2 separate regions of the Homo sapiens genome follow, and region 1 is linked to region 2. The links come from fine-mapping of genetic effects on gene expression. A gene starts in region 2. The other region holds a variant in brackets. All regions are shown on one strand. Distances are between the middles of the regions.

Region 1 (5,370 bases), 24 kb before region 2:
TTGTGAGGGTGTTGTATTGGCAAAGAAACCATAAGCCTGATCAGCAAAGCCTGGTTTGACACCCCTTCCCTTGCCTTATTCCCAGCCCTCCAAATCCGCACCAGCAGGAAGAGGGCTGTGAAGGCTGGAAGGACTGCAGAAAGCACAAGTTTGCCAGTGTGGGACAAAGGATATTGGATAAACAACAGCTTCCCAGCAGGAAAAGCCAGAGGCTACATAGGAGAGTGGAAAGGGGAGATCTTCCCAGAGAGCAGAACCAGGGGTGGTCAAATGTGCTGACCAAGAACTTACTCCACTGCCAGGAAAGGGCTTAGCCATTCCTGCCCAACCAGATTTGATAATTAAGATCCAGCAGCTGCTGGGTGTTTGCCATTCTTTCAGTTGCAAGTGGATTTTTTTTTTTGAGACAGTGTCTCACTATGTTGTCCACGCTAGTCTCAAACTCCTGGGCTCAATGATCCTCCTATCTCAGTAGCTGGGACTATAGGCGCGTAGCAGTGTGCTCAGCATGAGTCAGTGTTTTAATTGAGCTTACCCTCTTCTTCCTCCACTGTTGTCTGTGGGGAGTAGGAGGTGCAAATCACCTGCCTGTTAGTTTTTAGGTCACCAGACCATAGGGTGTCCATCTACCTGGAAGAAGGAACTGCCCACCCCTCAGATAGCCTGGACTCTCAGCTGGGTGCCGTACTCAGATGGAACTCTGACTTGCCTCCTTTTGAAGGGCAGTAACTGTGTTTTTTGTGTGGGATGGCCAGATGGGTGAGCTCTAGTAGAGCAATATCTCTTCTACCCTTCTTCTGCTGTTAGTAAACCACTACAATTTTAACTGAATGCAAGATTATATTTCACAGCTTCTTTTGCAGATAGTATGGCCATATGACTAAGTTTGACCATGAAATTTGAGCAGCAATGTTATATACATATATATTATATGATAGAAGGGTACCCCTAGGAGGAAAGGGAACCCTTTCTTACTGGCTAGAATTACAATACGATGATGGGAGCCGGAGCAGCAAACTGAACCCAACGATGGAAAATGCAGTTTGAAAATGATAGAACATCCCCCACCCCTGTCCTGGTCTGCCTACCTCTGGATTGTTATGTTAGAGATAAATAAATTTCTGTCTTGTTTAAACGATCGACAAATTGAACCTTTGTTATAGCAGCCAAGCCTCTCTCTAACTAATACATCTACGTTGCAGGATTGAGGTAGGATTAGGAATTACATATGTAGATAATGACCCTGCATGTTCGTGCAGTGCTTAGTGTCTACTACACACTGTGCAAAACACATTATATGCCATGTCCTGTGTAATCCCTTGCAACCCTGTGAGGGAAATACTTTGACTATTACAATTTTACAGATGACAAAACCAAGGCATAAATAGATTAAGTAACTTGATCAAAATCTCAAAGCTAGTGGGATGGAGCCAAGAATCAAACCCAGACTCAGGCACCACATTTATAACCACTAAGCTTTATGGAAGACACAGACCTGCCCCCTCTATACCTCCAACCATGAGGCTTTGAAGGCAGGCAGGCAGGCAGGCAGGCACGGGAGGGCTCTGACCCTTCAGTAGCCATCTCCTGCTGCTGTCAAGGTTGGGGTGGAGGAGGACTCCAGCTGGGGGTACACACCAGCACTGCTCAACACTAAAAGCATAGCAACTTCACAGTTTTCAAGAAGAGCTCTGCCTTGCCCCTTCTCTCACCCTACACCTGCCTTTCGCCTCTCAGATCTCCACCCTGCTCTGACCACAAGCCTGCCTCCACTCATCGTCTGGCAGGGCAAATCAGCAGGAGGTACTGGCTTCAGTTGGGTAATAAATACTCCTCGGGTGATTGATTTTAGCCTCTGGCCATGGCATCATATTTCTGGAAACCCTACTTCTTGGCTCACTCGCAGACTGGGTATATAATAAGGACCCTGCACCCTGACCCTAGGGTGAATTTGGCTGCTATCTCTGGAGATCTGATTTGTCTCGGACATGGGGTTGGGGAACCTGTTTAAGTGTTATTTTTATATCAGGAGGAGGAAAAACAGCTTGAGGAGGCCAAGAGAGTAGCCTGGATGAGACCCATTACTGAATAAATCACAAATAGGGTCCCCTAGGCCAGAGCAGTTGGGAGGCTGGGAGAGCAGCCTTCATATCCATCACAG[G/A]ACACAACTGCTCTGTCCTGTTTGTGTGTGGCTAGACGGAGCAGCATCTGTGCAAATGTCTGAAGGACCTGGAAAGAACCAGCACCTTGTTAATGCAATTTAGTCTGCGCCACAGGCCCCATTACTGAGTCTTTTTCTGTGAGCAATTGGGAATTGTAGTGGACAGTTGTTGCTTTTCTATACCCAGTATCCATTTACCCCATCTTTTGGCAAACTTCTGGGTTTTCCTTTAGGAAACCACATTCCCTCAATTCACCTGCAGCACATGATTTTCAGAAGGGCTCAACTGTGGGTTCCACGAAGTATTCCTCTGGTTCAGTTGTAGCCAATTAGCACTCCAAATGCCTCTGGCCACAGTGAAGTGGGCATTGACAGAATTAGTCCAATAGGGGTGAATCCTGGGACTTTTGCTGGAGTTAGAAACTCTTTCCCACTGCCTTTGGAACTGTAAGGATGTAAGTGTGGAGATTCTGGATGCTACTATGCAGAGTGGAGCTGCCTGAAGGTGAAGCCAAAACAAAAGGCAAAATAGCCACTATGACTAAAAAGACCAGGTTCTCCTGACATTCATTGCGTCCTTGGATCAAACTGTACCTGAAGATCCACCACTTGGTTTTTGAGTTACATGAACCAATAGAATGGTTTTTTTTTTTTTGCTTAATGCAGTTTGAATTGAGTCTTCTGTCACTTGCAGCTGAAAGAATTCTAATTGATATCAGAGTTAACAAAGAAACAGAAGACTTGGCCGGACGTAGCGGCTCATGCCTATAATCCCAGCACTTTGGGAGGCTGAGGCGAGCAGATCACCTGAGGTCAGGAGTTTGAAATCAGTCTGGCCAACATGGTGAAACCCCCATCTCTACTAAAAATACAAAAAATTAGCTGGGCATGGTGATGCATGCCTGTAGTCCCAGCTACTCGGGAGGCTGAGTCGGGAGAATCACTTGAACCTGGGAGGCAGAGGTTGCAGTGAGCCGAGATCGTGCCACTGCACTCCAGTCTGGGCAACAAGAGTGAAACTCCATCTCAAAAACAAATAAATAAATAAATAAGAGAAATAAAGAAACAGAGGACTTAGACACCCTCAAAGACTTCTGGGGGATGTTCAGTCATTGCTTTTTCCTGAGAAATAGTGCATATTTGAAAAACAGCTAGAGTGAATCAATAAGCTATCAATGAGGGTAAAAAAATACTTGGAGAGGCTGGCCGTGGTGGCTCACGCCTGTAATCCCAGCACTTTGGGAGGCCAAGGCAGGAGGATAGCTTGAGCCCAGGAGTTCAAGACTAGCCTGGGCAACATAGTAAGACGTTGTCTTTACAAAAAATAAACATAATTAGCCAGGTATGGTGGCATGTGCCTGTAAGTCCCAGCTACTTGGGAGGCTGAGGAAGGAGAATCGCTTGAGCCCAGGCAGTAGAGGGTGCAGGGAGCCGAGATGGCACCACTGCACTCCAGCCTGGGTGACAGAGTGAGACCCTGTCTCAATAAATAATAAATAAATAAATAAAGTACTTGGAGAAAATAGAGTAAATGAAAGATCAGAATGGGACAAGGTTATTAAAGGAAGGCTTCCTAAACAAGGCGAGTTTAGATATAGAAATAGTAATCATGACAACAGAAACTATTTACTGAGCCCTAACTATGTCCTGGAAAGCATGTTAGGCATGTGGCAGAAAATCTTTCATGATAGTATCCGTATTGGGGAGGGCACTTTCTGTTATCCGGTAGCCCCTTTCTCACTTAATCTTGGAAGATACTTAGTTTATTGCCTTAGGGAAGAAATGACACAATGCAAACAGGAGCATCTTCTGGCTTTGAGTTTCAAAAGTGAGGTCTTCTGGGAGGAAAGGGAATAATACACTTTGCTTAAATAATATTTGAGAGTTTTGGCAGGCTATGTTATTCAGAAAATATCTTCCACTAAAAACAGCTTAAAATGCTAGATAAAATATAAAGAGCATCTTCTTAAAAGCACTGAAAAGACAAGATAGCAAAGACTTACTAGGCCTAACTGAAAGGAAAATGGGCACACAGTGAAGCTCATAAGAAAAGAAGTGATTTTTGTTCAAGGGCATTTGCCAGTTCTAGCGAGAACCACATGGGGTGATAAGGGCCCAGGACCCACACAAGTTGAGAGTATGATAAGAGACCCCGTATATAGAAAGCTGGGATCTCAAAAAACCACAACCTCAGAGTGAGTGTAATCCAGAAGCAAACTTACATGGATTTATAGTCAAAGTGTTCCTCATCTGAATGTCCAGAGAGTATCAAACCTTGAACTTGGTTTAAGAACCAGTAATGATCTCAGGTGCCTGGCAGAAGCAAATATGAAAGTCTCTGAAGAAAGTTATCATCTTCCAAGGTCACAAATTATTCCAATAGTACCCAACACATTCTTGAAGATAACAGGTACACAAGGAAACTAGGAACCATGAGCAAGAACCAGCAGAAAGACAGCTAGCAGGAAAGACCCATGAAAACCTCAGAAATCGGCATTATCAGACACGTTATATGTAACAATATGTTTACTATGTTTAAATAAATAAGATAAGTTTGAAAAAGTAGGGAGCAAGTAGGAAACTATAAAAAGCAGCATGGCAGATTTGAAAAAAAGTGAATAGAACTTCTAGAAATGAAAAATACAGAAATGAAGGTAAAAACTTAATAGATGAATTTAATGACAGACTAGATAAAGCTGAAAAGAAAACTGAACATTAGGTCAGAAGAATTTACCTGGAATGTAATACAGGGAGATTAAAAAATATAAAAGACAATGAAAGAGAATAAGAGACATAGAAGTCAGAGGAGGAAAGTCTAAAATATATTTAAATAGAATCCCAGAAGGAGAGTAGAGAGAGGATGGGGCAGAGCACTATTTGAAGAGATTAGCTGAGGTTTTCTGGAACTGATGAAAAATAACAATGTCTATCTCTGAGAAGCCTATGAATCCATAGGGGGATAAATGAGAAGAAACCATACCTAGAAACATTGCAGTGAAAAATGCAGAAACCAAAGAGCGAAAAAAATTTGAAAGCAGCTGGAAAAAAAGACAGGTTACTTCCAAAGAAATGGCAGTCTAATAGCTGACTTCTCAATAGAAAATGGAAACCAGAAAATGGTAGAATATTTTCAGTGTGCTGAAAGTAACAACCAACTTGTAATTTTAATACCAAGAGGAAATTTACAAATAAGATAAAAAATTTGTTTT
Region 2 (5,363 bases):
CTCTGCCCAGATGCCAGCCAGCCCCTTGATGGGGATGCGGAGAGGGCAAAGGAGAGTGAGCAAAAGGGTGCTGTTGGGGCAGAAGCCCTAGGAATTGGGACTCCAGGAGTCCTGCCTGTCACAGATTCCAGCCCACCTCCCCCCGACCCCCCAACCCTATAATGCTCTGCAGGCACTACTGGGCCAACTGATTCTGGAATGGGACTGAGTGCAGGAGGGACAAGGGCTTGGGGAGTCCAGAGATGGCAAAAGATTCTGCAAGATCTGGCTAGAGTGAGTGCTGCAGGAGGGGTGGGGCCAGCTGTGTATGTTTGCAGGAAAGGTGGGGGGTGGGGGCAGAAAGGCCGCCTGCGGGGGAGAAGGCTTCTTGGCAAACGCCCCAGTTTCCTGAGCTGATCCCTGCTCCCTGCCACTGCTCCCAATTCTGTTGTTTCAATAACATCATTTTTATCCACCCCACAGAGAGACTGTGTCTTAGGAAGGGGAGGCGAGGGGCAGGGCTAGGGCATGGGGGAGGGGTGGTAATGGAGAGAGGCTGGGTCTGGAGGCAGCAGGGACTAGATTTGGGGCGCTCCCTCCTCAGGCAGAGGCAGGGCGGTCTCAGAGCCCAGGTCCCCTGATGACAAAGACAAATACATTAAAATTCTTGCCTCGGAGAAGAATGCAGGATAGGGAGAGCATTTCATAATCTGCAATAACAGTAGCAGGGTGGGAGCAGGGCTGGGCAGGGGGTTCGGAACCCAGACAGTGGCTCCCAGGAGGCTGGCCACTGGCCACCTGTAGCCTCCAGGGACCCCCAGAGCCCTCTAGCTGCCTATTTGGTACCACATGGCTGGAGTGTGCACCCAAACTGGGTATGTCTTTGAATGTGTAGTGTCCAGAGTTGGCATTGACCTTTAGGAACTGTCCAGATTGGCATTGCCCCGTAGAAACAGCAACTGTGTGCAAAGTTACTAGGTGCAGGGGCTGTGCGTGGCCTTTGGATACTGTTAAAGGCTAAAATGGGAGAGGGCAGTGCTTAGACCAGACCCTCTCTCTATGACTCTTGCCACTGCCCCCTGCCCCCTTCCCCTTCTTTAGTGTGTCCTAGCCCTTTCACCAGAACTCTCTGTATCCAGTGCAAGGGATTGAGCTGATGCAGCCTGGACACCAGGGCCCTGACATGGAGCTTGCTTGCCGGCAAGTCCACACTTCTCCAGTTCTCTCACCTCTGTCTGCTCATTCCTTCCCCCATCAGCCTCCTCCCCTGGGGTCACATCCCTTGGCCCCTTGGCCTCATCTTGATCTACTTGTCCCCCCTCTCTGGGTGACTCAGGATCTTGTCTTCTCTCTCTGCTCACCAAGGTTGTTTGGAAGTGACCTCAGTCATCACTCTCTTGGAAGCGACCTCAGTCCCCACATTCAGGTCCCCCTCTCTACCAACAACCAGGAGCTTTCTTCTGGGCGCCTGACGTTTCTGCCATAGGGACTCGATCTGTCCTCCCCACTCCAGGACAGCTTTAAAGGTTGATGGTTGCTCTTGATGGTATGGCAGGGAGAATGTCCCACACCACCTGTCCCTTGGCACCCCGGGGCACGTCGGGGACGGGAGGGGCAGGGGCTGCTGCCCACTGCCAGCCGAATGGCATGATGAATGGAGCTGTCCCTCTTCCCCACGGAGCCTTTGATCTCCCCCTCGTGGGGAGGGGGCCAGGGGCATCAAAGACATTTTTGTGGCATTAGAAAATCTGATAAACGCCATCTCACCTGCAGCTGGCTCTCCCACCCCTTCTACCCGGGCCAGGTTGGGGGAGGAACTCGAGGCAGGGACTCTTGGACACGCGAGGCCGGGCTAAAGCGAATTCTGACCCCTCGATCTCTTGAAAGTCTGCGACCTCCATTCTCCCGCTCGCTTACAAGTGCCAGCGCTTGCGCGCACGCCCTGGAGCGGCTACTCTTGCCCTCTCATTTCCCCCACCTCCCCGCCCTAGAACGCGGGCTTGAGAGGTGGGATGGCTGGGGGAGCGAGAGCGGAGGCCCAGGGCTTCCTCCCTTCTTCAAGGAGAGGCTGACGAAGGGGCATGAGGCATCGAACAGGGACACGGAAAGAGATGACCCCTCCAGCATCCGCCTGTCGGGCGGTCCAGTTTGACAACCCTCGCCGAAGCACCCCGCGCCCCAGGCCAACTTCCTCTCTTGCCTCCGCGCCAGCATCTCCCTCCGCACCGCCCCCCGCCCCAAACTCCCTCATTCCTGGGAAGTTTTCTCTCTTTACAGTCAACAAACCTGTCAAACGTCTCCCTTCCAGCCCGTCCCCCATTCCTCAGCTCCTCTTTCTCCCCCCTCACCCCTCTCTACTCTTCTTCCCAGCCCTTCCTTGCCCCCGACTCCAGGCGGCCGCGAGCGGCGGGGGGCTCCAAGTCCGAGAGAGGCGAGGCGAGGGGGCGAAGCGGGCGGGTCCCACAGCCCGAAGCGCGCTGGGGCCCCGCCCCGGCACCCCGCTCCCGCCCTCCGCTGCGCTCCGCGCCAGCCGCCCCGGGGCGCACGGCTCGCTCCCGAGAGTCCCGCTGCCTGACTGTCGCAACTGCCACCTCCCTCCGGCCCCCTGCCCCCCGCCCCCGCCTCGGCCCCGCTCCCCTCCCACCTCCGCCCCCGGCTCTGATTTCTTCTCCCGAGCGAGCTCCGCAGGAGACACAGGCGCTGGCTGCCCCGTCCGCTCTCCGCCTCCGCCGCGCCCTCCTCGCCCGGGATGGGCCCCCCCGCCGCCGCCGGATCCCTCGCCTCCCGGCCGCCGCCGTTGCGCTCGCCGCGCTCGCACTGAAGCCCGGGCCCTCGCGCGCCGCGGTTCGCCCCGCAGCCTCGCCCCCTGCCCACCCGGGCGGCCGTAGGGCGGTCACGATGCTGCCGCCCTTACCCTCCCGCCTCGGGCTGCTGCTGCTGCTGCTCCTGTGCCCGGCGCACGTCGGCGGACTGTGGTGGTGAGTCCGGCTGTCCTGGCGCGGCTCTGGACCCTGGAGGGTGGGGACCCCGGGACCCAGGACAGACTGGGGTGTTCCGCAGCCTCCCGGCTCTACCTGCTCTCCGAGCCCAGCTTTCTGGCCTCGGCCGGGGGCGTTTCTGAACTCCACTTCGACGTTCCTAACCCTCGGGAACATTCTATTGTGTTTCCTCCTCCCGGGTTCTCTCCCACCCCCCGCCAAGTTATGCGCTCACCCAGCTCACCAAGGAACAGGCGAGTGGGTAGGAAAGATCTTTCGGGAAGACACATATCCGAGGAAAAGAATGTGTGAGGAGGGCCCTGGATTCAGGGTATGGGGCTGGATTTGGAGAAGACAGGAACAAGGTGGGAAGCCACAAGGCAGAGAGGGCCACACAGCTGCCCCTTCCCCGCCCTGCTTTGCCTACCAACCCACCGGCTTCTCTCTGGGCTCCTGAGGAGTGGGCCTTAGTGACGACAGAGGGAATATAAAGGGGAAAGTGAGTCAGGACCCTGGTTTTCTCTACCTCGTCCTCCCCAAGCAAGGAAAAGGAGGAGCGGAAGGAACCGGACCCAGGCGCCCGGCCCTTCCAGACCTGGGGGTCATGAATGAAAAAATATGTGCAGCCCGGGAGATACGGGACCGGGAGGGGTCCTGCGGGAAGGGAGAGGGGCCTGGCCAGCCAAGGGAAGGGGGCGTCTTCCCAGGCTTGGCCCTAGCTAGAAGGGACACCTAGGCAGCGAAGGTTGCGGGAGCTTCGAGCCTTGGGGGTGGGGGTGGGGCCGGGGCGGGGAAGGAGGGTGCCCGACCGGGACGGCTCAGAGATCCAGATCCAAAGGACTTTTTTCCCCCTAGGTCTCCAGAGCCGCAAACCCTCGCCCGGAATAGCTCAGTGTTTAGAGAGGAGAGACTTGGACAATAACGCTGACGGGTTAGCCAATCCTAAGAAGGCAGGGTCGTGTCTATTTGCATATTGCCATGTGATTGGCTGGATGCCGACCCTCCGCTCCTCCCTCGCCCCCCAGATTTGGAAGAGAGGCAGATCCCCGTGCTCTGGAGAGATAGGGAGTAGGATGCCCACACAGGGAGTGGCGGGCAGCAATCCCTACTCCGTGATGCGGAGAGCCGTCCGACGCTAGTGTCACGGAAAGGGCGAACCGAGGACGACCCAGGTCCTATCTAGGGAACATATGCCCTTTGATCCGGCTTAGTATAATGCAGTGGCAGCTTTGAAGCAGATAGATCTAAGATCTAAACATTATGTTTGTGATCTTGGGCTAGTCACTTCCTTTCCCTACCTCTCAGTCTTAACTGGAAATAGGATAACAGTCTCCCTACCTGGCAGGCTTGCTGGGAAGGTTAGGTGGGAGGACGTGTAGAATAATAGGACCTTAGGAGGTACTCAGTATGTACAGCGCCCCCCTCACAACCCAGCTTCTCCTGGCCAGGGTCCCCAGGAGTGAAAAAGGGGATTCATTTACATTTAAAATCCAGAGTTCCAAGGAAAATGTTGTAAAGGAATCTCTTTTCCCCATAAACGCCTAACTTTGCCCTTTTTCAAGGTGTGGGGATGGGGTCCCTCCCTGATGGCCATTGTCTTCCTTCCCCTCCCTCCCCCTCTGTCTAAATCATTCTTATCCTTACGGTTAAAATACCATTTCCTCCCTGAAGCTGCCCCCTTGTCCTCCTTCCATTGCCTTCTCTGCGCTCCCACTGTATCACATACATTGGGCAACTATGCTGGTTACTGCATTTGGCTGACAACAGTCCTTTAGGTCTCTCTTCCCTGCTCCTGGAAGGCAGATACCTTGTCTTTAGGAGCCCTGAGGCCTAGGAGTGTGTTGGTGCTGGAGATGGGCTTGCAGAGTGTCATTGGACTGGCTGATTCACCTTTCTGGGCTCTGTATCTGTGGGGCTTCCTTTGTTCAGGAAGGACTGCTGGGTGGCAGCCAAGCCAAAGGAGAGTGGCCTGGTCCCTGAGAGACTGACCCTGAAGCTGGGAAGAAGGGAGTGGGGGAGGAGGTGACACGGGCAGGTGTGGGAGAACACAGAGGCCTTCATGGCCACAGCTGCAGGGCGTGCCGGGTGAGGAGTGAGGGGTCCCAGTGATAACGTGTCTGACTGCCTTGCTCAGATGTGCCTCTGAGGGAATGAGCCTCTCCTCCCTGCCTTGGCCCCTTCACTCTCCTTTGTCTATTCATTTTGTTTTTCTTTCTTTATTTCTATTTTTATTTATTTATTTATTTAGAGCAGAGTCTCGTTCTGTCGCCCAGGCTGGAGTGCAGTGGTGCGATCTTGGCTCATGGCAACCTCTGTCTCCCCGGTTCAAGTGATTCTCCTGCTTCAGCTTCCCAAGTAGCTGGGACTACAGGCACCCACCACCATGCCTGGCTAGTTTTTGAATTT

Which allele goes with the higher level. Positions count from the first base shown, and alleles are read on the strand shown. Sizes are in standard deviations (SD) of each study's normalised expression.
In carriers of allele A in region 1, the expression in skeletal muscle of the gene that starts at base 2,645 in region 2 tends to be higher than with G alone (large effect, 1.4 SD a copy in FUSION).

Evidence for each region. PIP is the estimated chance that this variant, and not a neighbour inherited with it, causes the effect.
Region 1: its variant is the best candidate, but not a certain one, in a credible set for the expression of WNT6 in skeletal muscle (FUSION, PIP 0.76).

The regions. Positions count from the first base shown.
Region 1 is chr2:218,833,115-218,838,484 of GRCh38, forward strand. No RefSeq gene overlaps it. Among named protein-coding and RNA genes, the nearest start is that of PRKAG3, 4.0 kb to the left of the region's middle. The variant G/A (reference allele first, on the strand shown) is at 2,162.
Region 2 is chr2:218,857,161-218,862,523 of GRCh38, forward strand. It overlaps WNT6 (Wnt family member 6), which reads left to right and starts at 2,645. Exons shown (of 4, transcript NM_006522.4): 1 at 2,645-2,957. The coding sequence starts at 2,878.